Linked DNA regions of Homo sapiens. The protein of the gene in region 1 interacts with the protein of each later gene in a biochemical or structural test. Each region holds a gene or a part of one and is shown in the gene's direction. Other genes may lie near its edges. The genes, in order: RPS6KB1, GLI1, EEF2K and PIP4K2A.

Region 1 (8,979 bases):
AGCCTCTTGAGTAGCTGGAACTACAGGCATGCGACACCGCACCCGTCTAATTTTTGTATTTTTATTAGAGACTGGATTTCATCGTATTGGCCAGGCCGGTCTCGAACTCCTGACCTCGTGATCTGCCCGCATCGGCCTCCCAAAGTGCTGGGATTACAGGTGTGAGCCACCATGCCCAGCCTGTCATATAAAATTAAAAGCAAAAGCTGGGGCCGGGTGTGATGGCTCACGCCTGTAATCCCAGCACTTTGAGAAGCCGAGGAGGGCGGATCACCTGAGGTCAGGAGTTCGAGACCAGCCTGGCCAACATGATGAAACCCCATCTCTACTAAAAATGCAAAAATTAGGGCCGGGAGTGTTGACTCACGCCTGTAATCCCAGCACTTTGGGAGGCTGAGGTGGGCAGATCACAAGGTCAGGAGATCAAGACCATCCTGGCTAATATGTGAAACCCCATCTCTACTAAAAATATAAAAAATTAGCCAGGCATGGTGGCAGGCACCTGTAATCCCAGCTACTCGGAAGGCTGAGGCAGGGGAATCACTTGAACCTGGGAGGTGGAGGTTGCAGTGAGCCGAGATGGCGCCACTGCACTCCAGCCTGGGCAACAGAGCAAGACTCCATCTCAAAAAATATATATATATACACAAAAATTAGCCAAGCATGGTGGTACATGCCTATACTCCCAGCTACTCAGGAGGCTGAGGTAGGAGAAACACTGGAACCTGGGAGGCGGAGGTTGCAGTGAGCTGAGATGGCACCGCTGCACTCCAGTCTGGGTGACAGAGTGAGACTCCATCTCAAAAAAGAAAAAAAAAAAAAAAACCCGGGTGCCTATAGTCCCAGCTACTTGGAACGCTGAGGCAGAAGAATCACTTGAGGAGTTTAAGGCTCTGGTATGCTATGATCATACCCCTTCATAGCTATTGACTGCATTCCAGTCTGGGCAACATAGAAAGACCTCATCTCTATTTGTAAAATAATTTAGAGTGAAATTCCCATAGTGTTGTTTGTGTACTGTGTTTTGTTCATTACCATATTTGCCTGTTGTTGAAGTATAAGAGAATTGTTAGGCTGGTTTATTTCATTCATTCTCTTTCAGTTATGAGACAAAGAATTAAACCTTTAAATTTTATGTTTATTAGATTATTTCTGAAACTTTTAACATATTTTTCAGGGTCAGTTAAATGAAAGCATGGACCATGGGGGAGTTGGACCATATGAACTGTAAGTTTATATGAAGAGATTTTCATTGTGTTGTCTTTCTTACAAGTAGGTTTTATCAGTTCTATTTCGTAGCAATCATGTGATTCCTGTAACCTGTTCTTAAATATGTAGTCATATTTATCAACTCGATGTATTGAATTTGGCACCAAAATCTGATCAATATAACCTATCAGAGTTTTGAGATTATGTATGGATTTTGAGGAAAAGATATTAATTCAGATTCAGAGTACTAAATATGAATCTGAGTTGTTAGTTTAAAGAGCCACAGTTTTAATCTTTTCTTACAGAAAAATTTGTAGAAATGCCTCAAAAAGTCAAATGCTTTCTGTTTTGCTTAAATATACAAACAGAAATTCATACAGTCATTCAAACAGAAATTCATGCAATCCGGCTGGGCACAGTGGCTCACACCTGTAATCCCAGCAGTTTGGGAGGCCAAGGTGGGCGGGTCATTTGAGATCAGGAGTTCGAGACCAGCCTGGCCGACATGGCGAAACCCCGTCTCTTCTTAAAATTCAAAAATTAGCCGGGCGACATAGCGAGACTCCGTCTCAACAGCAACAACAAAAAAGAAATTCATGTAATCTTAAGTCATTTTAGACAAGCTCCATTAGGTGAGTATGGTGATTAATCTGCTCTGTATTGTACTCTCAAGTAAAAAGCATTAGTGTAGGAGGAGAATGAGAAGATAGATCACTCATGTAGAAAGCATTTAAATGACAGAGACAATTGCTACCCCTTTTGGATTCTTTATTTTTATTTTTTTGGAGATGGAGTCTCCCTCTGTCACCCAGGCTGGAGTGCAGTGGCACAATCTCGGCTCACCACAACCTCCACCTCCTGGGTTCAAGCGATTGTCCTGCCTCAGCCTCCCAAGTAGCTGGGACTACAGGAGCGCACCACCACACCTGGCTAATTTTTGTTGGGTTTTTTTTTTTTTTTTTTTTTTTTGAGACAAAGTCTCGCTCTTGTTCCCAGGCTGGAGTGTGATGGCATGATCTCGGCCCACTGCAACCTCTGCCTCCCAGGTTCAAGTGATTCTCCTGCCTCAGCCTCCTGAGTAGCTGGGATTATAGGTTCCTGCCACCACGCCCAGCTAATTTTTGTATTTTTAATAGAGACGGGGTTTCACCATGTTGGCTAGGCTGGAATTTTTGTATTTTTAGTGGAGACAGGGTTTTACCATGTTGGCCAGGCTGGTCTTGAACTCTCGACCTCAAGTGATCCGCCCACCTCAGCCTCCCAAAGTGCTGGGATTACAGGCATGAGCCACCACGCCCATTGGATTCTTTAAATCAAGCTAATAACTTGAAAAAACAGATACAGAGAAGAAGTTTTGTACTATGATGTGAACTAATTGGGTAGTTTTGGAAAGATCCCTGATTTTCTGCTGACATTGCCAAATGAGGTTGGATAATACCTAATTTCATAGATATTTTCAATGAAGTAAATTTGAATAACTGCAAGACTTTTTTTCTTTGTCAACTTAATGAACTTTTTCTAACTTACCTTAGCTTTGGGGTGCTTGATGCTTATGAAAATAAATAATTGTCTTCTTTTACTTTGTTGCACTCCTAAGAGCAAGATGGGTCACCAGCAGCTGTATTGGAGTCACCCATGAAAATTCAATCAGGGTTCTTGCTCTTGTTGTGTCTGCTCAAACTGGCAAGGTCTGATCCAGAAATACGGCCTCAATATGTGCGCCAGTGTTTCTATCAGTAAACGAAGGATATAGATTTCATTAAGTTGGACTAAGTGATCTTACTTGAATGGATTATCCAAGGCATCTACCCAATGAAAAACCATAGTACCCCTTTATGCATAAAATAAACAATTATAAAAATAAGTAAATAATTGATTGCCCATTCTATGAACAAGGAGGCAAACGATTATCAGGCCACCCTCCTCTTGACCTGCTGTTCTGTTTGTTTAGAGCACAAATAATTTGGTGTCATGTACTTTTTTACTTTTACTTACTTAGATTACATTTCTCTGTCTCCTTTTTCTTGACTATATGCTGAAAGTAATTTAACTTTTTGCAAATTTATTTTTGGTTTTGCTTTTCTTCCCAGTGGCATGGAACATTGTGAGAAATTTGAAATCTCAGAAACTAGTGTGAACAGAGGGCCAGAAAAAATCAGACCAGAATGTTTTGAGCTACTTCGGGTACTTGGTAAAGGGGGCTATGGAAAGGTAGGCAATATTTTTGAAATGAGAGCTGTTGTCTGTCTTGAATAGATTGATTTTTATGCCCTGGTTCCAGCAGTCATCTTCAGTCTTTGTCAGCTATCAGCAAAGGATGTGATCATGACCACTTAGCTGGTATGTTTGAGGGATGTACAGAAGTTCAGTTTTCCCTTCTTTTCATACCACCACACATGTAAAAGCCTGGCACATAATAGGTACTCAGTCAAGGTTCATAGAATACATAAATAGACAACTGTACCAGGCAAAGTCTATTATTAAAGGGTTCATTCTTTACTTTGGTTAAATGGTATCCTCTTTAAAAATAAAGCCCTCCTTGCTTACAAGAGACATGGCAGTCTGAGTTGTTATCTGTTACTGAGACCTTAATCTCAACTGGTTTTCTGGAGCAATAGAATTGGGGAAGCTGAAGGAATATAAAAAGGGGGAAGAAAACTATTTAGTTTCACAGTTTTGCCCAAGGCTTTACAACTTAAGACGTCACTTTTATGAGTTCTGCCCACAAAACTTTTTACCAAACTATTCTCTTATCAAAATAATTTAGATAATAACTTGGTTAGTATTAAGTTTTAAGAATTATTTTTGCTATTGTGTAGTGTTAATTTTTGCAAAGCAGACATTTGTAGCCTATTCTTATGCTTAAGAACACATTGTAATTTCTAATCATCCTGAATGTGCAACACATGCACTTTGAATCTCACATGTTTTAGGTGTTGCATGAAAATGTTTATAGTTGTCTTTCAGTATGGGGGAGGGGTAAGGGAGAACTGATTCCAAGACCTTTGCAGATAACAAAATCTGCCGACGCTCAAGTGCCTTATATAAAATGGCATAGTATTTGCATATAAGCTACACACATCCTCCCATATGCTTAATTTTTTATTTTATTTTTTATGATTTTTGAGACAGAGTCTCGTTCTTTCCCGCAGGCTGGAGTGCAGTGGCACGATCTCAGCTCACTGCAACCTCTGCCTTCCAGATTCAAGCGATTCTCCTGCCTCAGTCTCCCGAGTAGCTGGGATTACAGGTGTGCGCCACCACATCCGGCTAATTTTTGTATTTTTAGTAGAGATGGGGTTTCACCATGTTGGCCAGGCTGGTCTTGAACTCCTGACCTCAGGTGATCCACCCGAGTTGGCCTCCCAAAGTGCCGGGTTTACAGTTGTGAGCCACCTCACCTGGCCATATTTGTGTTATTTTTTATTGTTTGTATTGTTTATTGTTTTTTCCCCCAAATATTTTCATTCTGCGGTTGGTTGAATCCACGGCTGCTGAACCTGTAGATTCAGAGGGCCAAGTATTAGTACAAACTATTTTAAGTAATAGGTAAACAGTAATTTCCTGCCAACTATTTTTAAATAGTTTTATGTGAAGCAAGGGCAGTGGCAAGCAACCTTGAAAGAAATTTATGAAATATTTTATAATTTTTACTGCCAACTATTTTTAAATAGTTTTATGTGAAGCAAGGGCAGTGGCAAGCAACCTTGAAAGAAATTTATGAAATATTTTATAATTTTTAAGGTGGTATTATGCCTCTGGGAACACTGTTTATAGCTTGTTCTAAGTAGGATTTTATATATTAATATAAAGTAACAGTGTTTATTATTAGATGGTCATTGTCCAACATTACCACCAGATGGCAGCAGAACAAACAGGAAAGTCATGATCATTAATGTGGTCTGTTCTTTTAGCTGATCATTTTTGCACATAGTTTTTATAATATAAACTGCTGTGGCATATGTTTCTTATAACTAGGAATTAAGGGAGTATGCCTGACATAGTTTGCCTTTGAATAACACACACTTTTTTTTAATCCAGGTTTTTCAAGTACGAAAAGTAACAGGAGCAAATACTGGGAAAATATTTGCCATGAAGGTGCTTAAAAAGGTGATTTCCACTCCCCCTTTTTAGTCCTCACACACCATATTTTTACACTTGATCTCAGCCAAAAGGCTGGGAAGCAATCATATCATATTTTTAATTGTTGTAACATTTTGGCCTAAAATTTGCAGTCAAAAAAATGTATCTCAAGCCAGGTACAGTGGTGCACACCTGTGGTCCCAGCTACTTGGGAGACTGAGTCAGGAGGATTGCTTGAACTTAGGAGTTCAAGGGTAGCCTGAGCAATGTAGTAAGACCCAGTCTCTTACAGAAAAAATGTATTTATTTTCTTTTCTTTTTTTTTTTTTTGAGACGTAGTCGCGCTCTGTCGCCCAGGCTGGAGTGCGGTGGTGCGATGTCGGCTCACTGCAACCTCCACCTCCCGGGTTCAGGTAATTCTCCTGCCTCAGCCTCCCGAGTAGCTGGGACTACAGGTGCATGCTGCCACGCCCAGCTACTTTTTTGTATTTTTGATAGAAACGGGGTTTCACCATATTGGCCAGGATGGTCTTGATCTCCTGACCTCAGTGATCCACCTGCCTCGGCATCCCAAAGTGCAGGGATTACAGGCATGAGCCACCGCACCCGGCAAAAAATGTATTTCTAACACAGTTGCAATACTTTTTAGAATGTGAGGTATGTTTCATTACTGTTATTCCTATTTTTATTTCTGCTTGGTGAGTGTGGAAAAGAGAGCTCTTGCAATTCTTTGCTGAGGTAACTCTTCACTGTTTCTGATCTCCTTATTTCTAAGTAATAAGCATGTACTGCCATCTCTTTTTTTTTGAGATGAACTCTCACTCTGTTGTCCAGGCTGGAGTGCAGTTGTACAATCTCAGCTCACTGCAACCTCTGTCTCCCAGGTTCAAGTGATTCTCCTGCCCTAGCCTCCCTAATAGCTGGGATTACAGGCGCCTACCACCACGCCTGGCTAATTTTTGGATTTTTAGTGTAGACGGGGTTTCACCATATTGGCCAGGCTGGTCTCGAACTCCTGACCTCAGGTGATCCATCTGCCTCGGCCTCCCAAACTGCTGGGATTACAGGCACGAGCCACTGCGCCTGGCCTACTGCTATCTTTTTTTTTTTTTTTTTTTTTTTTATTGTGACAGAGTTTTGCTCTTGTTGCCCAGGCTGGAGTGCAGTGGAGTGATCTCGGCTCACCACAACCTCCGCCTCCCAGGTTCAAGTGATTCTCCTGCCTCAGCCTCCCTAGTAGCTGGGATTACAGGCATGTGCCACCACGCCCGGCTAATTTTGTATTTTTAGTAGAGATGGGGTTTCTCCATGTTGGTTAGGCTGGTCTCGAACTCAGGTGATCTGCCCGCCTTGGCCTCCCAAAGTGCTGGGATTACAGGCATGAGCCACCATGCCCAGCCAACTGCTATCTTTTTAATTCAGCAGTTTTCAATTTTTTTTTTTAGACGGAGCCTCACTCTGTTGCCCAGGCTGGAGTGCAGTGGCGTGATCTCAGCTCACTGCAACCTCCACCTCCCAGGTTAAAGCGATTCCTCTGCTTCAGCTTCCTGAGTGTCTGGGATTACAGGCGCCCACCACCACACCCGGCTAATTTTTGTATTTTTAGTAGAGATGCGGTTTCGCCATATTGGCATGCTGGTGTCGAACTCCTGACCTCGGGGGATCGGCCCGCCTTGACCTCCCAAAGTGTTGGGATTACAGGCGTGAGCCACCGAGCCTGGCAGTATTAACTTTCTTTTATGCGAGTTAAGGATTTGTTTCTTGTTTACTTCACCCTCCTTTATCCTCATCCTCTCATTTTGTTTTGCTTTCTTTGAATCTACTATTGTCCTCTGATGTCTTCCAACAACTTTGTAAAACACCTTTCAGTCTAATGTTCTTTGATCAGGCTTATAAGATAATCTATCAGTTCCATTTATTTCCCAGAGGCATATCTTAGGAACTTTCTATCCACCTGTTCCCATCTGGAGTGGTAGCTCTTTAGTCACAACTGTTATGACTGGACTCTTTCTTCACCACAACCCTGGAATCCTCTTGGCTCCTTCAGTGTTGGATCTTTTGTTTCCTGGATCCCATATCTTCATTTTTTCCCTTTTTCTTAGTTTATGTCCTTGTTTTGGTGACACTATACTAGTGGCTCCCTCAGACAAGGTATATAAAGATACATTTATAATAAAAATATATCCATATTGCATATTTGAGAATTTCTTTACATTTTTATTTACTTGATTGTTTATGTTATTGGAGTTGAAAATTATTTTCACTTAGAATTTTGCTCAGTTTTCTTCTATTCTTGAGAGTTTCTGTTGAAGTGCTTTGGCATTCTGATTCCCAGTCGTTTACACATGGCCTATTTTTTCTGTGGAAATATTTAAGATTTTCTCTTTATTTCTGATCTAAGTTTTTATAGTGATGTGTGTTGCTTTGACTTTGATTATTATTTTTATTTAGTTAGTTTTTGAGATAGGGTCTCGCCCTGTCACCTAGACAGGAGTGCGGTGACACAATTATAGCTCAGTGCAACCTCAAATTCCTGGGCTCAAGCTATCCTCCCACCTCAGTCTCCTGAGTAGCTGGGACCACAGACACGCACCACCAGGCCTGGCTAATAAAAAAAAATGTAGAGATGGGCACTCACCATGTTGCCCAGGCTGGTGTTGAACTCCTGGGCTCAAGTGATCCACCCGCCTCGGCCACCCAAAGTGCTGGGATTGGATTACAGGTATGGCCCACTGCGCCCGGCCTATTTAATTAAATTAATTAATTTATTTATTTTTAAGAGACAGGGTCTCACTCTGTTTCCCAGGCTGGAGTGTGGTGGTGTGATCATACTTCACTGTAACCTGTAACTCCTGGGCTCAAGCGATCCTCCTGCCACAACTTCTGAGTAGCTAGGACTGCAGATGCATGCCACCACGCCCAGTTCATTTTTAAAATGTTTCGTAGAGACAAGGTCTTCCTGTGTTTCCCCGGCTGGCCTGGAACTCCTGGCCTCAAGCAGTTGTTCTGTTTTGGCTCCCAAAGTGTTGGGATTACAGGCATGTGCCACTGTGCCCAGCCTATTTTTATTCTTTTAATCTTAAAGCTTTAGTCTTTCAGTTCTAGGAAATTTTCTTATGTGATTTATTTGGTAATTTCCTTCCCACTGTTTTCTCTTCTTGGAATTGCAATTAGTTGGATGTTGGATCTCCTGGACCGATCATCTAATTTTTCTTATCTTTTCCACGTTTCCATTTCTTTGTCTTGTTTACTTTCTTCTACTCAATTTTTTTTTGAGATGGAGTTTTGCTCTTGTTGCCCAGGCTGGAGTGCAATGGCGCAATCTTGGCTCACCGCAACCTCCGCCTCCTGGGTTCAAGCGATTCCCCTGCCTCAGCCTCCCGAGTAGCTGGGATTACAGGCATGTGCCACCATGCCCGGCTAATTTTGTATTTTTAGAAGAGACAGGGTTCCTCCATGTTGGTCAGGCTGGTTTCGAACTCCTGACTTAGGTGATCCGCCCGCCTTGGCCTCCTGAAGTGCTGGGATTACAGGCGTAAGCCACTGTGCCCAGCCATTTGACTAAATTTTTTTTTAAAGCTGTTGTATTTGTGATTCTCCAGAATTCTTTCTGTTGTTTTTGTTTTATAGCAACCTGTTTAATGAGTATAATATCTTCTCTTACCCCTCTGAGAGTTTTATTTTTTT
Region 2 (4,963 bases), on another chromosome or scaffold:
AGAGCAAGAATTTGAGTCCAGCCAGTCCGTGCTCCAGCCTAGGTTCTTCTCATCAAACGTCTCACATTCAGTTTGCTCCCCCATCTCTTACCTGCTTAGCCCTTTCTACACTTACAAGCTTCCTTGGAACCCCAGCAGTCACTGGGACACAGGCTTCAGCCACTCATCAAGTTGAAGGAGCTGTGGGGAAGGGTGTTGCCCTCAGACCTCATCTTCTCCACAGAAGCCACAGCCAAGCCCTGGGGCCCAGTCATCCTGCAGCAGTGACCACTCCCCGGCAGGGAGTGCAGCCAATACAGACAGTGGTGTGGAAATGACTGGCAATGCAGGGGGCAGCACTGAAGACCTCTCCAGCTTGGACGAGGGACCTTGCATTGCTGGCACTGGTCTGTCCACTCTTCGCCGCCTTGAGAACCTCAGGCTGGACCAGCTACATCAACTCCGGCCAATAGGGACCCGGGGTCTCAAACTGCCCAGCTTGTCCCACACCGGTGAGACCTGGGTGTGGGAGGTGTGGCTGGGGTGAGATCTGGACCTGCCCTGAGGTTGAGAGGAGGAAGTCACCCTTGAGGGCTGTCACACAGCACTTTTGTATAATTAGAAAATGGTGTCCTTCCTCAAGACACTTTCCATTTATCAGAAAATAGTTGTGATGTACAAACATGCAAAGGCTAGCCAGGCATGGTGGTGGGCACCTGTAATCCCAGCTACTCAGGAAGCTGAAGCAGGAGAATTGCTTGAACCTGGGAGGCAGAGGTTGCAGTGAGCTGAGATTGCGCCATTGCACTCCAACTTGAGCAACAAGAGCGAAACTCTGTTTCAAACAAAACAAAACAAAACAAACAAACAAACAAGTATGCAAAGGCTATGATGCGAATGCTGTTCCCTAGGATTGTGCAGCACACAACCTGCACAACTGTTCATAGCAACCCTGAATCCTTGGTAACCCAGAAACAGAATAGGCATGGGAGAAGTAGGAGACAGAACAGACTGGTTAGGGATAACGAGCTTACCCCTGAGAATCCAGGGCAAGGCTGTTGCATGGAGGAGGCAGGGTGAAATTTAGGAAGCTCCTTGACCATCCTACCTTTTCTCCCCATCACTTGCAGGTACCACTGTGTCCCGCCGCGTGGGCCCCCCAGTCTCTCTTGAACGCCGCAGCAGCAGCTCCAGCAGCATCAGCTCTGCCTATACTGTCAGCCGCCGCTCCTCCCTGGCCTCTCCTTTCCCCCCTGGCTCCCCACCAGAGAATGGAGCATCCTCCCTGCCTGGCCTTATGCCTGCCCAGCACTACCTGCTTCGGGCAAGATATGCTTCAGCCAGAGGGGGTGGTACTTCGCCCACTGCAGCATCCAGCCTGGATCGGATAGGTGGTCTTCCCATGCCTCCTTGGAGAAGCCGAGCCGAGTATCCAGGATACAACCCCAATGCAGGGGTCACCCGGAGGGCCAGTGACCCAGCCCAGGCTGCTGACCGTCCTGCTCCAGCTAGAGTCCAGAGGTTCAAGAGCCTGGGCTGTGTCCATACCCCACCCACTGTGGCAGGGGGAGGACAGAACTTTGATCCTTACCTCCCAACCTCTGTCTACTCACCACAGCCCCCCAGCATCACTGAGAATGCTGCCATGGATGCTAGAGGGCTACAGGAAGAGCCAGAAGTTGGGACCTCCATGGTGGGCAGTGGTCTGAACCCCTATATGGACTTCCCACCTACTGATACTCTGGGATATGGGGGACCTGAAGGGGCAGCAGCTGAGCCTTATGGAGCGAGGGGTCCAGGCTCTCTGCCTCTTGGGCCTGGTCCACCCACCAACTATGGCCCCAACCCCTGTCCCCAGCAGGCCTCATATCCTGACCCCACCCAAGAAACATGGGGTGAGTTCCCTTCCCACTCTGGGCTGTACCCAGGCCCCAAGGCTCTAGGTGGAACCTACAGCCAGTGTCCTCGACTTGAACATTATGGACAAGTGCAAGTCAAGCCAGAACAGGGGTGCCCAGTGGGGTCTGACTCCACAGGACTGGCACCCTGCCTCAATGCCCACCCCAGTGAGGGGCCCCCACATCCACAGCCTCTCTTTTCCCATTACCCCCAGCCCTCTCCTCCCCAATATCTCCAGTCAGGCCCCTATACCCAGCCACCCCCTGATTATCTTCCTTCAGAACCCAGGCCTTGCCTGGACTTTGATTCCCCCACCCATTCCACAGGGCAGCTCAAGGCTCAGCTTGTGTGTAATTATGTTCAATCTCAACAGGAGCTACTGTGGGAGGGTGGGGGCAGGGAAGATGCCCCCGCCCAGGAACCTTCCTACCAGAGTCCCAAGTTTCTGGGGGGTTCCCAGGTTAGCCCAAGCCGTGCTAAAGCTCCAGTGAACACATATGGACCTGGCTTTGGACCCAACTTGCCCAATCACAAGTCAGGTTCCTATCCCACCCCTTCACCATGCCATGAAAATTTTGTAGTGGGGGCAAATAGGGCTTCACATAGGGCAGCAGCACCACCTCGACTTCTGCCCCCATTGCCCACTTGCTATGGGCCTCTCAAAGTGGGAGGCACAAACCCCAGCTGTGGTCATCCTGAGGTGGGCAGGCTAGGAGGGGGTCCTGCCTTGTACCCTCCTCCCGAAGGACAGGTATGTAACCCCCTGGACTCTCTTGATCTTGACAACACTCAGCTGGACTTTGTGGCTATTCTGGATGAGCCCCAGGGGCTGAGTCCTCCTCCTTCCCATGATCAGCGGGGCAGCTCTGGACATACCCCACCTCCCTCTGGGCCCCCCAACATGGCTGTGGGCAACATGAGTGTCTTACTGAGATCCCTACCTGGGGAAACAGAATTCCTCAACTCTAGTGCCTAAAGAGTAGGGAATCTCATCCATCACAGATCGCATTTCCTAAGGGGTTTCTATCCTTCCAGAAAAATTGGGGGAGCTGCAGTCCCATGCACAAGATGCCCCAGGGATGGGAGGTATGGGCTGGGGGCTATGTATAGTCTGTATACGTTTTGAGGAGAAATTTGATAATGACACTGTTTCCTGATAATAAAGGAACTGCATCAGAAAAAATACCATGCCACTTTATGTATTATTATGTTGGGGAGGAATGATAACAGGGAACAAGAAGAGAAGCAGGGGTTAATCCACTCACTTTCCTCTTTAGAGAAGCTCCCTCACCCATCCCAACACCTCAAGTCACACTCATGAAGATAGAGACAGTCATTTGGGAGATTTAAAGGGATATCCTCAAAACAGAACACCAGCCTCTCACCACCAGAGATGACCGGAAATATGTTTTCTCTTCTTCCTTCCCTGCATCAGGGGAAGAGGCTGGTGAAGTTGGTGAGCATCAGCTGGACCAGCTGCCCTGGGTAGAGAGCATGGGCTGCTGGGTCAGATGTCTCCTGCTCTGGCCGAAACAGGGTTGGTCCAAACACAATTCCCAGGTTGTGGGGTGTCATGCGATTCTTATCTGAGTGTGCTATCACCCTGTAAGCAAAGGCCAAGGAAGGGGATATATGGCAGCAGCTTGCCACTTCATAGCAATCTAACTAACCCTTCAAAGTTCTGAGCAGGGAAGAGTTCACTCTGGGATTCCTCCACATGGTAACAAAAAAACCAAGGAGATACAAGGAGAATGGAGATGGACCAGTGGAGAAACCTTCAGGATACAACCTGAAGATATAACTGCCTCTTCCGACTTCAGGGGCTGCCCCAAGAGTTCTGCCTGCTCACAGTTTGGGAGTCTTTAATTCAAGTGGCCATCCTCTCTCAGAAGTCACTGCCCAGGCCCAGTTCAACCAAAGAAGCCATCAGCAATGTCCCAATGGGAGACAAAGAGGCAGAGGGAAGGGAGAAGTAAGATTTCCCTTATTCCTTTCACAGCATCTTGGTTCCATTTCCCCACTTGATGCTGACCTTTAGGTTTTGACCTAAAGTCTTTGACGGGCACGGTGTAATCCCAGCACTTTGGGAGGCTGAGGTGGGTAAATCACCTGAGGTCAGGAGTTCGAGACCAGCCTGGCCAACATGGTGAAACCCCGTCTCTACTAAAAATACAAAAATTAGCCAGGCGTGGTGGCGGGCACCTGTAATCCCAGTTACTCAGGAGGCTGAGGCAGGAGAATTACTTGAACCCGGGAGGCAGAGGTTGCAGTGAGCTGAAATTGCGCCACTGCACTCCAGTCTGGGTGACAGAGCGAGACTCTGTCTCAAAAATAAATAAAATAAAAAAATAAAGGTTTTGACTCTGGTAATATGCTCCTGCACAGAGGTTGCCTGCTTCCTCACCTGCCCATTAAACTTAGGTGCTTCCCTACCTTCACTCCACCTGCACAGAGTCCCTGTGGCATTCCCCACTCCACCTTTCCCCAGCATGAACAAAGAGGTTCTGTCTTCCTGACCTGCATAAATGCTCCAGGAGGTACCGTAGAGTGTCATGGTTGGGCTTTGGCATTGAGCCTATTAATTCTTGTATCTGAGAGAGGCACTGCTCTGATTCGGAGAGTGCTAGAGAGAGTGATGGGAAAGGCATGGTAGTAAGGTTAGGGAAGGTGCTAGGACAGGATGGGTAAATGCACTGCTCTTTCCCACAGGCATGGAAGACATCATTAATCTAGCACAGCTTTCTTTTTCACATAGCCCAACTATAGCCTCATAATTCTTTTCAATTCAGCCCTCTAAACATTCACAAAAAAGCAACTGGAGTAGGCACCTGAGTTGAACATTATTTTCCATCTCTAAAGTCAGAATGGGAAAGAAGAGTATAAGGGAACCTCTATTCTATTATTTACCACCCGTGTCCCCCACATCAAGGGTTCTTTCCAAAGCTCCAACCCTTACCAAGGGCAGCACGGAAATGGGGCAGCAGCAGTGGTGGCACCAGAGGCTGGGGCAGCTCCCGGAGAAAAAGCTTCAGGGCTCCGGTGACCACATGAATGTCATCCCACTCAGTACTGTCCAAATCTAACC
Region 3 (8,979 bases), on another chromosome or scaffold:
TGGGGTCCGAAGTTCTTATCCTCTGCAGGGAATGGGGAGGCCAGAAGACAGAACTGAAGTGGTCACAGTTTACACATAATCATCGGTGTACATTCCAAGAGCTACCGGTGTTTTGGGCCAGGGGCGTGGTGGCTCAGGCCTTTAATCTCAGTACTTTGGGAGACTGAGGAAGGTGGATCACTTGAGGTCAGGAGTTTGAGACCAGCCTGGCCAACATAGGGAGCCCCCATCTCTACTAAAAATACAAAAATTAGCTGGGCATGTTGGCATGAGCCTGTAATCCCAGCTACTCGGGAGGCTGAGGCAGGAGAATCGAGAATCGTTTGAACCCAGGAGGTATAGTTTGCAGGGAGCTGAGATTGCACCACTGCACTCTAGACTGGGCAACAAAGCGAGACTCTGTCTCAAAAAATAAAAAAGATCCACCAATTTGTTTTTCTTGTGCTTTTTGTAACTGTACAGTACTTTTTGGCTGATTACGGATATATCACTGGCTGGGTGTGGTAGCTCACACCTGTAATCCCAGCCACTTTGGGGGTGCTGAGGCGGGAGGATTGCTTGACCCCAGGAGTTCAAGACCAGCCTGGCTGACGGGGTGAAACCCGGTCTCTATTTAAAAAAAAAAAAATCTCTGATTTGCTTTTAAAACATTTTACTGTATTATGTGGCAGAGAAAGCTATGGGTCACCAGTACCCATGTTCTCGTCCTCCTGGGGTGCTCCCTGGATGAATTTTCCTAGGCTTCCTTACCATTCGGTAGGGCCACACGGCTGAGTTTTGGCTGATGAAATGTGAGTGTGTCCATTTCAAGCCTCGACCCTAAAAACCTCTCACTCTTTCCTTATTTGTTGGACAAGTCAAGGCGACTTTGAAGGCCTAGAGGAGGGCAGAGCCACAAGCCAGAGGGAGTGTTTGTTGTTTTTGAGATGGAGTCTTGCTCTGTTGCCCAGGCTGGAGTGCAGTAGTGTGATCTCAGCTCACTGCAACCTCTGCCTCCCAGATTCAAGTGATTTTCCTGCCTCAGCCTCTTGAGTATGAGCTGGGACTACAGGCACATGCCACCGTGCCCAGCTAATTTTTGTATTTTTAGTAGAGATGGGATTTCACTGTGTTGGCCAGGCTGGTCTCAAACTCCTGACCTCAAGTGATCCACCCGCCTCCCAAAGTGCTGGGATTACAGGCATGAGCCACCATGCCCACCCGGGAAGGATGTCTTTAGGGTTGTTATCTTGCTGTGGGGAGAGTCCCCAAAGCAGTCTTGTCCAGTTTTTGGCAGGGTTGTCGTCTGGTTGCCGGGACTCTGGGAGCTGTGTGAAGAAAGCCAAGGGTGAACAGCAGAAGCTTGGACTTGTTCAAGCTCGTTCTCCGGGATTCACTATTTCTGGTCCAGTTCTTACACCTGAAGCAGAACAACTGAATGATCAGGGCTATAGACAAAGTAATAGCGGCAGGTTGAACTAATTTAAAAGAATCAGTGTTTTTTGTTGAGGGAGATTGGTTCTGCTGACCTGAAAGCTGCAGGTTATTACCCTGATGAACTGAGAAGGCTCCTAGAAGGTGGTTAGAGCGATGACCTTGTCTCCACCTGGGATGAAAGCGGCTTGGGCCTTAAAGTGTTGCTGGATCAAATTCTTGCAGCCAAGGCTGATGAGCACAAGCAAGGAGGCTTCTTTTTTGTTGTTGTTTTGAGACAGGGTCTTGCTCTGTCACCCAGGCTGCGGTGCAGTGGCACAGTCACAGCTCACTGCAGCCTGGAACTCCTCGGCTCAAGTGATCCTCCTGCCTCAGCCTCCCAAGTAGCTGGGACTACAGACATGAGCTACCACCATGGCTGGCTAACTTTTAATTTTAGTGTAGAGATGGGGTCTCACTCTGTTGCCCAGGCTGGGCTTGAACTCTGGGCTCAAGCGATTCTTCTGTCTGGGCCTCCCAAAGTGTTAGGATCACAGGCATGAGCCGTGCCCAACCATATAAGAAGGCTTCAGACAAAGGAAGGAGTGAGTCACTAACACGCTGATGATAAAGCAGAAAATAACAGTGCTCCCCACAACCCCCAAAGTCCCAGGGCTGTGGGACTCCTAGAGAAGCGTCTCAAATGGCTCCAGAGTCAGAAGGTGGATGGCGTTCTGTTCTCCAGCTGTGAAGCTTTCGAGCTCTAGCAAGGACTAGCAAGCCAGAGGAAGCACCCGGAAGTAGGTGGCTAAACTGCGGAAAATTGCCCTAGGCCAGCGTTTCTCTAACTTCAGTGCACATCAGCATCCCCAGCAGGACTTGCTTACACTTTGATTGCTGGACCCATCCCCAGAGTTTAATTTAGTAGGTCTGTAGTGAGGCTTGAGAATTTGCATTACCAGCAAGTTGCCAGGTGAGGCTGCTGCAGTGGCTGCTGCGGCAGCTGGTCCCATACTTTTAGAAGCGCTGGTTAAGGAAGTGATGACTGCATTGAAAGCTCTGGATTCAGCCCGCACCAGCTTCAAACCCAACTCTAGTCATGTGATTTGGGATAAGTCACATAACCTCTCTGTTCCTTAGTTTTCTCATCTGTAGAATGAAGCTAAGAGCGACTAACTCCTGGGGTTCAGGGGAGGCTTCATGAAGGAGGTGATATCTAAGCTGAGACCTGAGGGATGAGCAGTCAAGTTGGCCAGGGGATGAGTAGGGAGGACAGGCTGGGGTGTGTACCAGACAGAGGGCATAGCATGTTCAGAGCCCGAGGAGGAAGGAGTGCCTGCCTTCTAGGGAGCTGGGAGGAGTTATGTAGCAAGTGCTTTGTAAGTGATACTGAAATGCTACCAATCTGTTCTGGGCAGGATCACAGTGGAGAGGAAGCCAACCAGGGTATGGAAAATGGGCTGCTGGACGGGCTCAGAAATGGTACAAGTTATTTGTGCTCTTTCATTGGCCAGAATGCAGTCACATGACCTTACCTAGCTGCAAGGGATGCTGGGAAATGTCCGTGGCCAGGCAGGGGAGAAAGGATTCCTGGAGGAAAGCCAGCTCTCTGTGCCACCTGTGGTTTTCAGGCCCCCTCTCTCACTTCTTCTCCACCTTGCTCACTTTGCTCCACTCTGTTGAGTAGATGAATTTTACAGATGAAGAAGCTGAGGTTCAGAAGGTTAAGTAATTTCCCCCAGCATTCCTCAGCTGACTGTGGCAGGGCCAGGACTTGAATTCATCCCAAAGGCCTTGTTTGGCTAGATCTGGTTTTGGTGCTTATCAGGTCCTCCATGAGCCAGTCTTTCCCACTACGACCTCAGCCATGTCATTGGACTAAGTAACTCCTATGTAGTTACAACACAGTAGGTTGTTTTGTTTGTTTTTGTTTGTTTGTTTTTTCGGAGGTCTGGGGGCGGGGGGATAGAGTCTTGCCCTGCTGCCCAGGCTGGAGTGCAGTGGCACAATCTTGGCTTACTGCAACCTCTGTCTCCTTGGTTCAAGTGATTCTCATGCTTCAGCCTCTCAAGTAGCTGGGACTATACAGGTCGTGTGCCACCACACCTGGCTAATTTTTGTATTTTTGGTAGAGATGGGGTTTCTCCATGTTGCCCAGGCTGGTCTCGAACTCCTGGCCTCAAGTGATCTGCCTGCCTCGGTCTCCCAAAGTGCTGGGATTACAGGGGTCAACCACCGTGCCCAGCCACAACCCAAAAGTCCTTCTGTTTCTCCATTATATCAGCAGGAAACTGCCAGCTTTTCTTCACTTACTCGTTCATTCATGCAGCATGCACTTGTGCATTTATGGTGTGTGCCAGGCATTGTGCTTTGGGCTGGGAGCTGCAGAGGAACAAGACACACGGCCCCTTTTGTTCAAGACACTCACATGGTCTGGCCACCGAGAGGGCTGGGCACACAGTTCATGTGAGAAGTGAGACGTGCTGTATCCCTGAGCTGACCCACCAGGAGTAGAGTGTACCGTGGACATGCAGAGAGTGCCCAGCAAGTGATTAAACATTACAGTTCAAGCTCCCTTGTGCATTTTGCTAATCAAAGCTATAATTATATTTTGTGTTTCATATTCCAAAATGCATTTTTCAGATTCCTGAAACAATAAAATAGCCCTTGCATGATGACAGTTTTATATGCAGAAAACACAGTGTACTGCAATGATATTTTTACGAGCCTTTAGCAGAGCAAATGATGACGTATCTCTGGCTTCTGCAGCAGGTTGCTGTTTACATCGGTAAGTTGATTTCTCTGTCTCTTTCTTTTTTTTTTTTTGAGACAGAGTCTTGCTGTGTCACCCAGGCTGGAGTGCAGTGGCACGATCTTGGCTCACTGCAACCTCCGCCTCCCAGGTTCAAGCAATTCTTCTGCCTTGGCCTCCTAAAGTAGCTGGGATTACAGGTACACACCACCACACCCAGCTGGTTTTTGTATTTTTAGTAGAGATGGGGTTTTCACCATGTTGGTCAGGTCTCAAACTCCTGACCTCGTGATCCGCCTGCCTCGGCCTCCCAAAGTGCTGGGATTACAGTCGTGAGCCACCGCACCTGGCCTTCTCTGTCTCTTTATGGTATGTGGGGAGATTTGTTTTTAAAAGGAAAAGGGGAAGAGAGGGTTGGGGAGGGCTCCTTAAAATTACACCAGAGGCTGGACACAGTGGCTCACACCTGTAATTCCAACACTTTGGGAGGCTGTGGCTGGAGGATCACTTGAGTCCAGGAGTGGCAAGACACCATCTCTACAAAAAATTTTTTAAAATAAGCCAGGCATAGTGGCACAGGCCTGTAGTCCCAGCTACTCAGGAGGCTGAGGCGGGAGGATCCCTTAAGCCCAGGAGTTCAAGGATGCAGTGAGCTGTGATTATGCCACTGCACTCCAGCCTGGATGAGAGATCAAGACACCCACCCAGTCTCTTAAAAAAGAAAGAAAGAGGCCAGGCACAGTGGCTCACGCCTGTAATCCCAGCACTTTGGGAGGCGGAGATGGGTGGATCACCTGAGGTCAGGAGTTCAAGATCAGCCTGGGTGACATGGTGAAACCCTGTCTCTACTAAAAATACAAAAATGAGCCAGGCATGGTGGCACACACCTGTAATCCCAGCTACTCAGGAGGCTGAGGCACAAGAATCACTTGAACCTGGGAGATGGAGTTTGCAGTGAGCCAAGATGTAGTTGCTGCACTCCAGCCTGGGCGACAGAGTGAGACTCCATCTCAAAAAACAAAAGAAAGAAATTCCACCAGATTCATTCTAGAGCTGGGTTTCTCAGCCTCGGCACTGACATTGGGCCGGACCTTCTTCACTGCAGGGGACTGTTCTGTTTATTTTAGGATGTTTGGCAGCATCCCTGGCCTCTATCCACTAGATGCTAGTTGCACCCCTAGAGTTTCAACAACTGAAAATGTCTCTAGACATTGCCAAATGTCCCTTGAGGGAGCAAAATTGCCCAAGGTTGAGAGCTGCTCTTCAGGACTTCGTTAGTTTCCAATTGCTGCTGTAACAAATTGCTGCAATTACTTAGTGGCTTTAAAACAACACATTTATTATCTTATAGTTCCTGGGGATCAGAAGTTCTAAAATCTAGGTGTCAGCATGGCTGTGTTCCTTCTGGAGGCCCCAGGAGAAAATCGGTTTCTTTGCCTTCTCCAGATTCTAGGGGCTGTCCTCATTCCTTGGGCTCCTGGCCCCTCCCTTCCATCTTTGAAGCCAGCAGTGTGGCAACTTCACACCTTTCTGTCTTTGGTCACATCTCTTCCTCTAACTCTGACCCTTCTACCTCCTTTTTATAAGGATCCTTGTGATTACACTGGGCTCACAGGATAATCCATGACTGTCTCCCATCTTAAGATCCTTAATCACATCTGCAAAGTCCCTTTTGCCATATAAGGTAACATATTCACAGGTTCCAGGGATTAGGATGTAGCCATCTTAGGGGAGCCATGTTTCTGCCTGCCGCAGACAGTCTGGCCTCAGGTTATAATGAAATTTGCTTGTGGAGGGTTTGTAGGGAGCGAAGTGATTTAGGGAGTCGGGGACTGGAGGATTATTGGGACATAACAGCAGCTAGTACTTTTGAGAGTCAAGTCTATCCCAGACACCATGTGCCTAATCTCATTGTATCCTCAGAACAACCCCTGCAGGGGTACTGTTAGCTGACCCCTGTTTACAGAGGAGGGAACTATCCAAGGAAGGCTTTCTGGAGGCCAGGTGCAGTAGCTCATGCATGTAATCAACTTTGGGAGGTCGAGGCAAGAGGATCGCTTGAGGCCAGGAGTTCAGAGGCAAGAGGATCACTTGAGCTTGGGAGACTGAGGCTGCCGTGAGCCATGATTGCACCATTGCACTCCAGCCTGGGTGACAGAGTGAGACCCTGTCTCAAAAAAAAAAGAAAAGAGACCAGCCTGGGCAATGTAGGGAGACGCCCATCTCTATAAAAATAAAATAACATAATTAGCCAGATGTGGGTGGTATGCACCTGTAGTCCCAGGTACAATGGAGGCTGAGGTGGGAGGATCACTTGAGCCCAGGAGTTGGAGGCTGCAGTGAGCTATGATTGCACCACTGCACTCCAGCCTGGCCAACAGAGCCAGACTCTCTCAGCAACAACAACAACAACAAACCCAAAAGAAACAAACAAGGAAGGCTTTCTGGAGGAGGTCAACATTTGAGCTGCGTCTTGAAGAGATTAAAGGGTTTTGCTAGTGAGTGGGAAAGGGATTCCAGGCAGAGGTGTTACTGGTGGAGGGTGTCCAGGTTCTTGGCATTTTGAGCAAAGAATTGGACAAAACACACGAACAAAACAAGGAAAGAAAGCAACGAAAGCAAATATTTACAGAAAACAAAAGTACACTCCACAGGGTGGGAGTGGGCTTGAGCAGATTGCTTACAGAATTGCCTGGGGTTTAAAAACCCTCTAGAGGTTTCCCATTGGTTACTTGATGTACACCCTATGTAAATGAAGTAATGGCCTGGGATCAGTCTGATAGGTTGTGGAATGCGACCAATCAGAGGCTGAAGTGAAGTTACAAATGAAGACTCCTATACAAACGAGGACTTGGCCAGCACCAGCCTGATTGGTTGTGGGAAGGGACCAATCAGAGGTAACTTCAGTTTTTCATCTGCCACGCAGGTAAGTTGGGGGTTGCAAAGGGAGTAGCCTCTGGTCCTTTTGTTACTTGGGCTTGGAAAGTAGGGGTTTTCCTTTTGATTTAGTTCTAGGAAGTCAGCCTGAATCAGCCTTAGGTTCCCTGCCTCCAGACCCTATTCGCCTGCCTCAGAGGCACCTGCAGATAGATACAAGGGCAAGGAGGTGAGGAGAGTTTGGTGGTGCATGGAGATTGATTCTTGGACTTGGAAACTTGGGAAGCTGAGATGGCAGGGAGGAAGGGACGGATGGGCTGGACTCTGTAAATTGGTCCTTTCATTCTGATGTACTATTTCTCTCAATAGTTTAAATAAATGTTTATGAGCACCCATTATATGCTAGGGGTGCAGACATTAAGACACTGATGTGAACTCTTAGCTTGATGCTTGACTTAATCACTCCTAATGCTGCATCCCAGTAAATAAACACTGAGCAGCCAGACACGGTGACTCACACCTATAATCCCATCTCTTTGGGAGGCTGAGGCGGGTGGATCACTTGAGGTCAGGAGTTCAAGACTAGCCTGACCAACATGGTGAAACCCCGTCTCTACTAAAAATACAAAAATTATCCAGGTGTGGTGGCGGGTGCCTGTAATCCCAGCTACTCGGGAGGCCGAGGCAGAAGAATCACTTGAATCCGGGAGGCGGAGGTTGCAGTAAGCCGAGATCACGCCACTGCACTCCAGCCTGGGTAACAGAGGGAGACTCCATCTCAAAACAAAAGAAACACTAAACATAAGGGTATTTGAGTTCATGTTGAGCACCTGTGCACTGAAGGCAATACAAGGTATGGGGGGAGGGATGGAGACAGCAGTGCAGACCTTAGGATGTCACAGCCCACCTGACAAGTCTATTGTCTAGGAGAGGGTCCCAGCTCCTAATGGTGGGGCCCAGGATTCAAACCCTGGCCATGCGGCTGTAGAGGACAAGCTGTTAGCCACTGTATTGGGCTTTGGTTTTTGTTTCTTGTTTGAAGGAAACTCGGGACTCCAGCTAGGGTTTAAAATATCTTCAGAACAAGCCAGGTGCAGCCCTCAACAGCCTAGCGCTGTGTAGTTCCGCTCCCTTAAGGTTGCCTTTTCAGAGGTAGACTGTCACTTCTGGACCTAGCAGCTCCTGTCATTGTCAGAGGAGAGTCCAGTGTAGCACCTGGTGTGCAGTCAGTCTTTCACGTGCATTATTTGTCTTTCTTATTTCCATAGAAATTACGCCTTTTTGAGGTTGATAAGCTTTTGAGGTTGATAAGCAGATAAGTAGCTCTTCTGCTTACTTATCACTCATTCACAGCACAAAAGCCACACTCTCCCTTCTCTGAATTCGTGTTAAACTGTGAGAAACTCAGCTTCTTCTAGTTGGTGGAATAAGACAGTGTCCTTGGCATGGTATGTAAAGGAACCAGATGGCTGGGCACTGTGACTCATGCCTGTAATCTCAACATTTTGGGAGGTTGACGCGGGAGGATCACTTGAGACCAGGGGCTTGAGACTAGCCTAGGCAACACAGCAAGATGCCGTCTGTAATAAATAAATAAAGGAACCAGAAGAAGACCTACCAGTGTAGGGATAGGGTGGGGAAGGGAAGTAGTAAGGGGAAGTAGAGCTAAAGTCTCATTTATCATACCTGGAAATCAGAAGATAGGATGAAAATAGATAAATTAAGAAATAATCAGGGCCGGGTGCAGTGGCTCATGCCTGTAATCCCAGCCCTTTGGGAGGCTGAGATGGGTGGATCCCTTGAGTCCAGGAGTTTGAGACCAGCTGGGCACATGGTGAAATCCCATCTCAACAAAAATATACAAAAATTAGCTGGGTATGGTGACGCGTGCCTGTGGTCCCAGCTACTCCGGCGGCTTATATGGGAGGATCACTTGAGCCTAGGAAACAGAGGTTGCA
Region 4 (8,979 bases), on another chromosome or scaffold:
TTGAACTAGAGACAAGCAATATATTTTAGTTTGGGTAAGAGCAAAGTAACAGGCTAAAGGAGAGAGTTTTTCAGGAAGTTAAATGTCTTTTCAGTTATTAAGCAGCTCTGCAAGTAATCCATTTCAGTAAAACTGACGAATGATCGCTAAGCCTCATATACAACACAATAAAATGTGTTGTAGAAAAAATAATATAGAGGCTCATGGGTACACTATTGAAAAAATAGTTTACTAATTAAAAGCTTCTCTTTTAAGTAGTAGATCCTCTGTTTTGTGAAGTGTTTGTTTACAAGTCATTAAATCTAGCTACCACCTGACGAAGAAGTTTTCTGGGGGGAATCCGGAGGGGAAATAAAGCCAAAAGCAATGTGATGCAAATGTAAAGAATGAAAGGCCACCTGGAAGAAAGATAAAGTAGCCATAAAGTAGCTGTCAGATCTAACTCAGTATCCTGCCGCACTACTCAATTATGAAGGTATAGATACTGCTGTACCAGGACATATTACAATCTGCAAAATGAGAGGTTAGACTATATGATCTCCGAAATTCTCTTTTAATTTCAGCATCTTATGATTCCATGTAAACCATTTGATTTTTCTTCTTGTCTCATTTCTTGTCTTCTTAGATAAAGAGGACCAAACATTCTCTACCTCTTGGGGTAGTCTGGTTTTGGAAGATGGGGAATAGCTAAAAGTTTGTGTTTCCCTGACATTTAAATGACACAGTAGTCAGAACTCTCCGTCCCTCAAGGGCCATGTAGGGCTGCACTCCTTCCAAGAAGCCCGTCACCCACACCCGTGACCACGGGCTCCTGCTCTGTGCTTCTGTGGCACTTGTTGTCTGGCTTCAGCATTTCTTCTGTGCTGCTTGGTATTTTACTACATGTGAAGGTCTTGCACCATCGACTACAGTGGAAAACTCCTTACAGTCAGGGATCTTGTTTTGTACTGACTTTCCATTTCCAAGTGATGGTCCTGGAACTCCTTTCCCCTTTATGTCACACTCAGCCAGCAAACACCCTCCATCCTGAAGAACGCCTGTCATCCTGTCTCTGCACCTGCACCCTGGGGTTGAGCTCTGCCAGAATGAGGAATGTCATCCACAAGTTCACTTGGTTCCTGTACGTGAACCATCACAAACTGTGGATGACGCTCAGCTCTGCCCGGAAGCCCAGCCTCCTGTCTCTATTTAAACTTGTCCATCCACATTCTGCAGTCCCCTTTTTAAGCTCTCTGTGTTCTCTTTAACCTTTGAAGTCCTCAGCCTGCTTCTCACTCTTAGCAGGTGGCCATGGCCCTAATCCCCAGAGAAAATAGGAGCCAGTGGTCGGGAGCCCCATCTTCCCTCCATCAGTTCTGCTCCCTCCCCATGACACCTATCTCTTTTCCCTCCTGTGAACAGGAAAGTCGCTTCCCTCCTCAGAGCCTCTCCTTCCTGCATGCCTGAATCCCATCCCCTCCCACTTTCTCGAGAAGTGCTACGGAATGTCCCTTCTCTGTCAGGTCCTCCCTCTGTCCCTCATCCCTCTTCATCTCGCTCCTGTCCTTCCCTGCCAGGCTCCTTAGAAATCAGCCCTGTGCAGTGCCAGCATTTCCTTAACTCAACTTAGTCTGGGTTCCATTGCTACACTCCACCGAAACAACTCTGCCAAGGTTGCCAAGGACCTCCTGTGCCGTTCAATCTGGCTGACATTTCCCAGTCCCTGCCTTCTCAAAAGCATCATGATCATCCCATAGCATGTTTGAACCCCCTTTTCCCTTCACTCCCATTGGGTGGCCCTGTGCTTTTTCACTTCCTGCCTCGATGGCAGTTTTCCCCTTTCTCATCCTCTTCTCCAGGCTTGGAAACATTCCCGTTCTTGAAGACTGCTTCTCCGCCTTCCTCCCCATCACACCGGCCCCTCTCCAGGTTACCTCATCCACTCCTCTGGGGAGCTAATGTCTGATGCACAGATACACACATTTTTATCTCTTGCCCCTGCTGCCCCTGGGAACTTCAGACCCACCTGTCCACGGCCTACCTGACATTGACACTTAGATGTCCCAAGAGCGCATGAAGTTTAACAAGCTCAAAACTGAACTCTTCTCTTAAGATGCATTGTGCCAGTCGTTGGACCCACCAGCTTCCCCCGCATGCATGCAGCATTCCCTCCATCTTTCCCTACATTTCTAGTCTGTCATCATCAAGCCCCATAGATTTCAGCACTTCAGCATGCCGGAGTCTCTCTGCTTCTTTCGTTTCTGCTGCCGCCTCCGCCCTCTGCTGAGCTGCTCTCCTCTGTCTGGTGCAATTCTACAGCAGCCGCTTCCCGGTGCTCCTGGGCCTGTTGTTCATCCCTTTCATGCCACGCACCTTGTCTATTTCTGCACTGTTTTCCCATTAACAGTGTCCCCTCCTCTCTAGGACTCGCCTTCTTCCTGGAAGCCCTGTCCACCTGCCCTCTCCTTTCTCCACGAGCCATTGCTGCCCAGGGAAGCCTCACATGCCTCCCCCATCTGGCCTGGGCCTTTTCCATACTTGCTCGTAGCCCATTGTGCTTCTCCCTCCTGACTCTGTCATTGTTAGAGTTCAACACTTGGGGCAGTTCTTCAGTTAATGTGTCTGCCCCTCTGGACCATAAGCCCCAAGAGGACAAAGACTGGTGTCCGAGCTGTGCCCAGCACAGAGTGGACTCTTAAAGGTTGTGCTGACGCGAGGATGGGTGGGGAAGGAAAATCAATAAGGAAAATTCTCAGTTTACTCATTCCATGTTGGCTGAAGTTTTCATATTTTCTCCACAAAACATGTTCCAGAGCAGGTACCATAAAGCAAAAGGATGCAGAAAGTTTCTGGTTTCCTGTTTCCTGTCTGAGAAGACTCTCTTAAGTGATACTGATTTAAGCAGCCTGAGGAGGCATCAAAGCTTTGGAGGATCTGCTGAACACATCACGCGCATTTAAATAATCAGTGTCTGATCCCACCTCCACGTTGGGTTTCGCTTTCTCTTGTTCCACAAGATATCGAAGTGCTGATTGAGTTGGCATCCAGCTTCATTCGCATTGTGTTTATTATCACAAGACTTGGATTTCCATTATGATTTTCTTTTTCTGTTATTTTTCAAACTTTGATATTCCACTGATAGCATAAGGATACATAAACTTTAATTTTTCATAGATATACTCTGGGAATGACTTAGTATCATAAGATGCTTGAGTAAAGTGAACTGGAGAAGCTATATGACGTTAGATTCCTGTTTTTGTTCAGTGGGTTTGAGAAGCTAGCTGTCAGCTGTCACTATCATTCCTCTGTTGTGTTTGCCTTTTCTCTCTGGCCACCATTCCTTTCTTCTCTTTGCATTTGGCCTTCTTTAGTTTAACTACAGCGTATCTAGGTATGCTTTGAGTATTCTTACTTATATATTGCTTTGAGTATTCTGCTTTTTTTTGTTTTTTTTTTGTTGTTGTTGTTTGTTTTTTGTTTAACAGACATGGATCCACTCTGTCACCCAGGCTGGAGTGCAGTGGTACAATCACAGCTCACTGCAGCCTTGAAATCCTGGATACAAGTGATCTTCCTTCATCAGCCTCCTAAGTAGCTGGGACTACAGGTGCACACCACCACGCCCAGCTAACTTTTGTTATTTTTTTATTTGTTAGAGACGAATTCTGTTGCCTAGGCTGGTCTCAAAGTCCTGGGCTCAAGCAGTCCTCCTGCCTCAGCCTCCCAAATTGCTGGGATTACATATATGAGCTGCTGTGCCCAACTGTATCTACAGATTTATAACGTGCATTAATTGTGGAAAATTCTGAATCATTATTTTTTCAAATATAATCATCTTTTGTTCATCTTCTATTTCTGTATAATTTCTCACAGCTTAAAAAATTCTATATCTGATCATCTTAGTAACTAAAGTCTTGAAAATATTAATTAGTCGTTGCTGTCTCTGTGAGCTCATGTTTGATTGATCTTCATCTGTGGGAAGCCTGGAGGCCTGGCAGGGGTTGCTCTCCTCCGGAGATCATTTACATTTACTTCCACCAGGTGTTGGGGCCACTTTCAAAGGCTTCCTTCAAGGATCTCAGGTTAACGTTGAAGCCTTTGTTGAGCTCCCAGCTTTCGTTTGGCCCAAGTAAGTGTTGAAACTGGCATTTGTCCTCGGAGTCCCTCCTTTCAGGCTTGCTTAATGGTCCCCACACTCCCTGTGGATTAAACTCACTTTGGGGGAAGAAAGGTGTCTTGGAGATTGCCTCTACTGTCTGTGAACCCAGCAATGTGATTAAAAAAAACAAATAGCTCTATCAAGCAGCTCATTCTTTTGTTGTTTGCTTGTTTTGTTTTTGTAACTGAGAATCCTTCAGCGTACCTGCCTTCTATCCTACTGGAAGCATAAATCTTTGACATGGTTTTTATTGCTAGCAACAAGGAAAGTCAACATGCAAAAATAGTTAACGAAGAGAAAGTTCAGGTTTTTCAAAATTGTGTCCAAAGCTGTCCCTTTCATTCACTGGAACTTGATCTTACCCTTTGTCCTTTGGAAACACATCTTTGCTTTTGTTCTTGACTCATGTCCAACCCACCTCCTTCTCTTGTAGTCCTGGGACCACGTGTCTTCTTCCTTCCCTGAATGGAGGTTCTTCTTTTGGTAAATTCATGCCCCACCCCAATCTTTATTTTTAAACTTAGTTCCTGTAAGGGAAGTAAAGAGCACACAGATGAGTTCAATATATAAATCACGTCCATTAATCCAACAAATATTTACGTGAAAAATTTAAAAGCTTTCTTTCTCAGATAACATTTTCTTTACAGAAGGAAGTTGTCCTGGACATGTGACCAAAGGGTCTGTGGGATGAGGTTGTGGAGGGAAGGTAGGGAGAGTGGATGGGCAAGAAGCAGGGACAGGTGGCATGAGGATTGACTCTCCCTCACCACTGCCGTCCGGTGGCCACCATGGACCCAGCATCAGACAGACATAAGAAGTGGGAATGAGGAAGGCAGGAAGAGAGATTATGATGGCAGAGGGAAGGAGGGTGGGTTGGTGGGTGGGAAGAGAAGTTCCTGTGTCCACCATGTTTTTTTTCCCAAGGTACACATTCAAGTCAAGTCCTCCTCACCTGGATAGTAATAACCCATGCTATTTATTTTATATTTTTCCAGATCAATGAACTGAGCCATGTTCAAATCCCTGTTATGTTGATGCCAGATGACTTCAAAGCCTATTCAAAAATAAAGGTGGACAATCACCTTTTTAACAAGTAAGTACAAGTATGACCTTTCATAAGACTAGCGTGGCTGCTAGGAGTACAAGTTTTGTGAATTTTTGTAATCACATAATTTGTCAATGGGTGGGAGTAAAGTTTTGCTGATGAAGTTAATCCTGTGATAAACATAACCATCTGTCATTTTTAGAGAAGCAACAGCAGGCTCTCTGGGATAATATCCTTTGCCATATGGCATATTGTTCTCTATGAATATCTTATACGTTGAAAGTGATATTCTCATTATAATTCAAATTTTTGAAGCTGTAAATTGCTTGGATTTTTGAGCAGTTATGAACCTCTGCTCTTGTACACAGAACTTTGAAAATGATGATTTATGAACAGCAATGACTCCATCTTAGAACAATAAAGACCCAAGGTACATTTTCATAAGGCACAATTAGATGCCATGTTGGGCATTGATAACATTCCTCCTTCATTTGAATGTTGTTTTAGACGTCATTATGAAGCACCTATTATATGTTAGGTGGTCCATTGAGAGCTAGAGATGCAATGATATAGAAGACACGGCCCTGCCCTCAAGGGGCTCAGAGTACAAAAACTGACACATATACAAACTGCTATAGTTCAGTGTGCAAAGTATGATAAGGGAGGGGTGTGTGCATATGTATAATTTAATTTATCTGGTTGTGTGGGAACACAAAGAGGGAAACAATTCTGAATGATTAGGGTGAACCTCAAATCACTCCCATGTGAGGATCATTATGAAATTTTTTTTTGAGACAGGATCTTGCTCTGTTGCTCAGGCTGGTGTGCAGTGGTGAAATTATATCTCACTGCAGTCTCAAATTCCTGGGGTCAAGCAATCCCCCTTCCTGAGCCTTCTGAATAGCTGGGACTACGGGTGCAGGTTACCATGCCCAGCTGATTTTTTAAAAAACTTTTTGTAAAGACAGGGGTCTCACTATGTTCCCCAGGCTGGCCTCAAACTCCTGGCCTCAAGAAATCCTCCCACCTCAGTCTCCCAAAGTGCTGGGATTACAAATGAGTGGTGTAAGCCACCATGCCAGGCCAATTATGAAATTTCTTCAGGGGGCCATTGTCCTTATGTGAAGCTGATGTTAATTTTTCTCATAACAGTGTTTAGAAGCTGACTTTCAGGGAATTTCCTCTAAGCAAATTTAGAATGTGGCATTTATATAAAACAGGCCTTTTAGGGGGGTGAGGGAGTGGCCCTCCTTTCCTCAGCAGTAGCTGAGAGGGAACCTTGCTCCGCTGCCTCTTCCTAACTCACTCTCCCGCCATTGTGCTTTTCCCTCACTGCTCCCCCTGCCTGGCCCGTTCCTTCCCCACCTCTTGTTCTTTGAGGAATGGCTGCAGTGTGTGGCCAGGATTTAAAGAGGTCACATAGTCCAAGCGTGCCTGTGACAAAGGAGACAGACAGACATCCGTCTGGCCCCCTGTGTCTCCTGGATCTTTCTGCGGGTTGTACCTGGTTCTAGGAAGCACACCTGTGCTTTTGGTAGGCAGTGAACTCTGAACCCTTCTTTGGCTACCTGTGGAACTCAGTGGTGGCAGATGCAAGTCTGATTGACTCTCTCTGAGCTTTATTCCACGCTGTGACTGTTTCAGAGAAAACATGCCGAGCCATTTCAAGTTTAAGGAATACTGCCCGATGGTCTTCCGTAACCTGCGGGAGAGGTTTGGAATTGATGATCAAGATTTCCAGGTGAGTTGCGTTTGTAACATTTGCTTCCAGTAGGAAATGGGTTTTGCCATGACTTTTGCTGTGTCAATTGGGATCTGTATTTTTGTCAATAAAAGTATTATATAATAGTAATTTTCATTTTGTGTAAGAAGTTTTTAATGTTCATGCTGAAGTAAAGTGTTCTCTTGATTGGGGACCTCTATACATATGATACCGGTATAAAAGTCAGTAGGAAAATATATTACTTTTCTTTGGAAGGAGACTGAGCATGTGAGGGTTTTATATAATACTCTCATTTCCAGGTGGAAATTAACAGGCTAGCAGAGCTGCCTGTTAATTTCTGCTGTCAGACATGTCAGTAGCCTGTGTGAGTGTGCATGTTTTGTATCTTCGTAGAGGCTACTTAGGACTCTCAGGAATCTTTATCTTGCTGATTTGCTGCTTTTCAAGTTGGTCAGACTCTTGCTGCAGCATTTTTGTCAAAGGGCACCCTTTGTGCACTGCAGTGCTGGACTGTGGAGTGACCATAGCACTGTGGTCAGCACCAGGAACCCAACATCCTGGGCGTGTCCTGTGGTACATCTTCCTCTTCATCTTGATTCCCACCACGTAAAAATGTGCACTGCTGCTCTCCTCCCCACACTGGCCTGGTCCTTCATTCTAACTTTTAAACATCTGTTTTAACTCTTTAAATAACTGTTGAGCCATGATCATTTTTTTCTGAGAAAGGATTTGACATTGGTTACCCAAGTTTCATATAGCGAGCCAGATTCGTAAATGCTAAGGATTTTTTTTAAAAGTGGAAATCCAAGGGACAGGTTGAGTATCCCAATCAGAAAATCTGAAATCCAAAATGCTTCCAAATCGAATATTTTCTGATCATCAACGTGATGCCACAAGTGGAAAATTCCACAGTTAAGTGCTCAACACAGCCTTTGTTTCATGTACACAATTATTTAAAATATTGTATAAAATTACCTTTAGGCTATGTGTATAAGGTGTATATGAAATAGATAAATTTCGTGTTTAGACTTGGGTCCCATCCCCAAGATATCTCATTATCTTTGCAAATATTCTGAAATCTGAAAAAATCTGAAATACGACTGGCTGCAGGCATTTCAAATAAAGGATGCTCAGCATATACTGACTTAAGTCCCTTCAAATCTAGTCCTAATCTGCCCTCAATTTAAGATCTGAATTTATCCTGCATTAAGTGACATATTGCCACCCTGGGTGACTACAGATTGAGTACTGATACAGCTTACCCTGTATTTTCCTCTGAAGAATAGGGTCCCTCAGGCAAACTGAGATAGTTAGCACACTTTCCTAAAGATCTGTGCTCCCACTGCCCTCTCTGTACCATTGCCAAAAATTTCCAGGAATTTTTCATATGTTTACTCAGGCATGAGAGAGGCTGCCATGTTTGGAGAAAGCAGCGCTGACCAGGCTGCCGGTGACATTGTCTCATGATGGCCTGGGGTTGTGGTTTACATGGAGGTCCAGACCCTGAGCTGAGGCTCTGTGTACACAGAAGAGCTGAGGGCTGGCTAGTGGGACAGGAAGGATGTGGTTGCTCATCTGCTATTAAAACTGCGTGGGAGCCAACACTCCTGTTAGGGCGTTTCTTTTTTTTTCTTGATACAAGGTCTTGCTCTGTTGCCCAGGCTGGAGTACAGTGGTGTGATCATAGCTCACTGCAGCCTCAAACTGCTGGGCTCAAGTGATCCTCCGACCTCAGCGTCCAGAGTAGCTAGGACTACAGGTGTGCACCACCATGCCCAGCTAATTTTTTTTTTTTTTTTGGTAGAGATTGGGGTCTCACTATGTTACCCAGGCTGGTCTCAAACTCCTGGCCTCAAGCCGTCCTCCCAGAGCATGAGCCAGTGCACCTGGCCTTGGGGCTTAATTTTTAAGAGAGAACTTAGATCACAATTATGGACTTGAAATTTACTGCTGTAAAAATAATTAACTTTAACAGAAAATTATTAGAATAGTAAAAAGCATTTCTCTGAAGTTAAAATTAATAATTCTGTATCACTTTAGAACCATTACTAAATTTAAAGAGGCCACCTGAAA

The links.
Region 2: of the proteins of RPS6KB1 (region 1) and GLI1, one has a biochemical effect on the other in vitro, tested with the Homo sapiens proteins (one study listed by IntAct).
Region 3: the proteins of RPS6KB1 (region 1) and EEF2K form a complex in vitro, tested with the Homo sapiens proteins (one study listed by BioGRID).
Region 4: of the proteins of RPS6KB1 (region 1) and PIP4K2A, one has a biochemical effect on the other in vitro, tested with the Homo sapiens proteins (one study listed by BioGRID).

Annotation. Positions count from the first base shown.
Region 1 is NC_000017.11:59,909,385-59,918,363, forward strand, and holds part of RPS6KB1 (ribosomal protein S6 kinase beta-1), read left to right. Parts: intron 1-1,177; coding exon 1,178-1,227; intron 1,228-3,299; coding exon 3,300-3,420; intron 3,421-5,250; coding exon 5,251-5,319; intron 5,320-8,979. UniProt on the Homo sapiens protein: Serine/threonine-protein kinase that acts downstream of mTOR signaling in response to growth factors and nutrients to promote cell proliferation, cell growth and cell cycle progression.
Region 2 is NC_000012.12:57,469,208-57,474,170, forward strand, and holds the end of GLI1 (zinc finger protein GLI1), read left to right. Parts: intron 1-223; coding exon 224-491; intron 492-1,109; coding exon 1,110-2,854; 3' UTR 2,855-3,061; downstream 3,062-4,963. Other genes in the region: ARHGAP9 (rho GTPase-activating protein 9), read right to left, coding at 3,310-3,481, 4,396-4,501, 4,835-4,963. UniProt on the Homo sapiens protein: Acts as a transcriptional activator. Binds to the DNA consensus sequence 5'-GACCACCCA-3'. Regulates the transcription of specific genes during normal development.
Region 3 is NC_000016.10:22,208,124-22,217,102, forward strand, and holds part of EEF2K (eukaryotic elongation factor 2 kinase), read left to right. Parts: intron 1-8,979. UniProt on the Homo sapiens protein: Threonine kinase that regulates protein synthesis by controlling the rate of peptide chain elongation.
Region 4 is NC_000010.11:22,605,872-22,614,850, reverse strand, and holds part of PIP4K2A (phosphatidylinositol 5-phosphate 4-kinase type-2 alpha), read left to right. Parts: intron 1-5,133; coding exon 5,134-5,231; intron 5,232-6,827; coding exon 6,828-6,924; intron 6,925-8,979. UniProt on the Homo sapiens protein: Catalyzes the phosphorylation of phosphatidylinositol 5-phosphate (PtdIns5P) on the fourth hydroxyl of the myo-inositol ring, to form phosphatidylinositol 4,5-bisphosphate (PtdIns(4,5)P2). Has both ATP- and GTP-dependent kinase activities.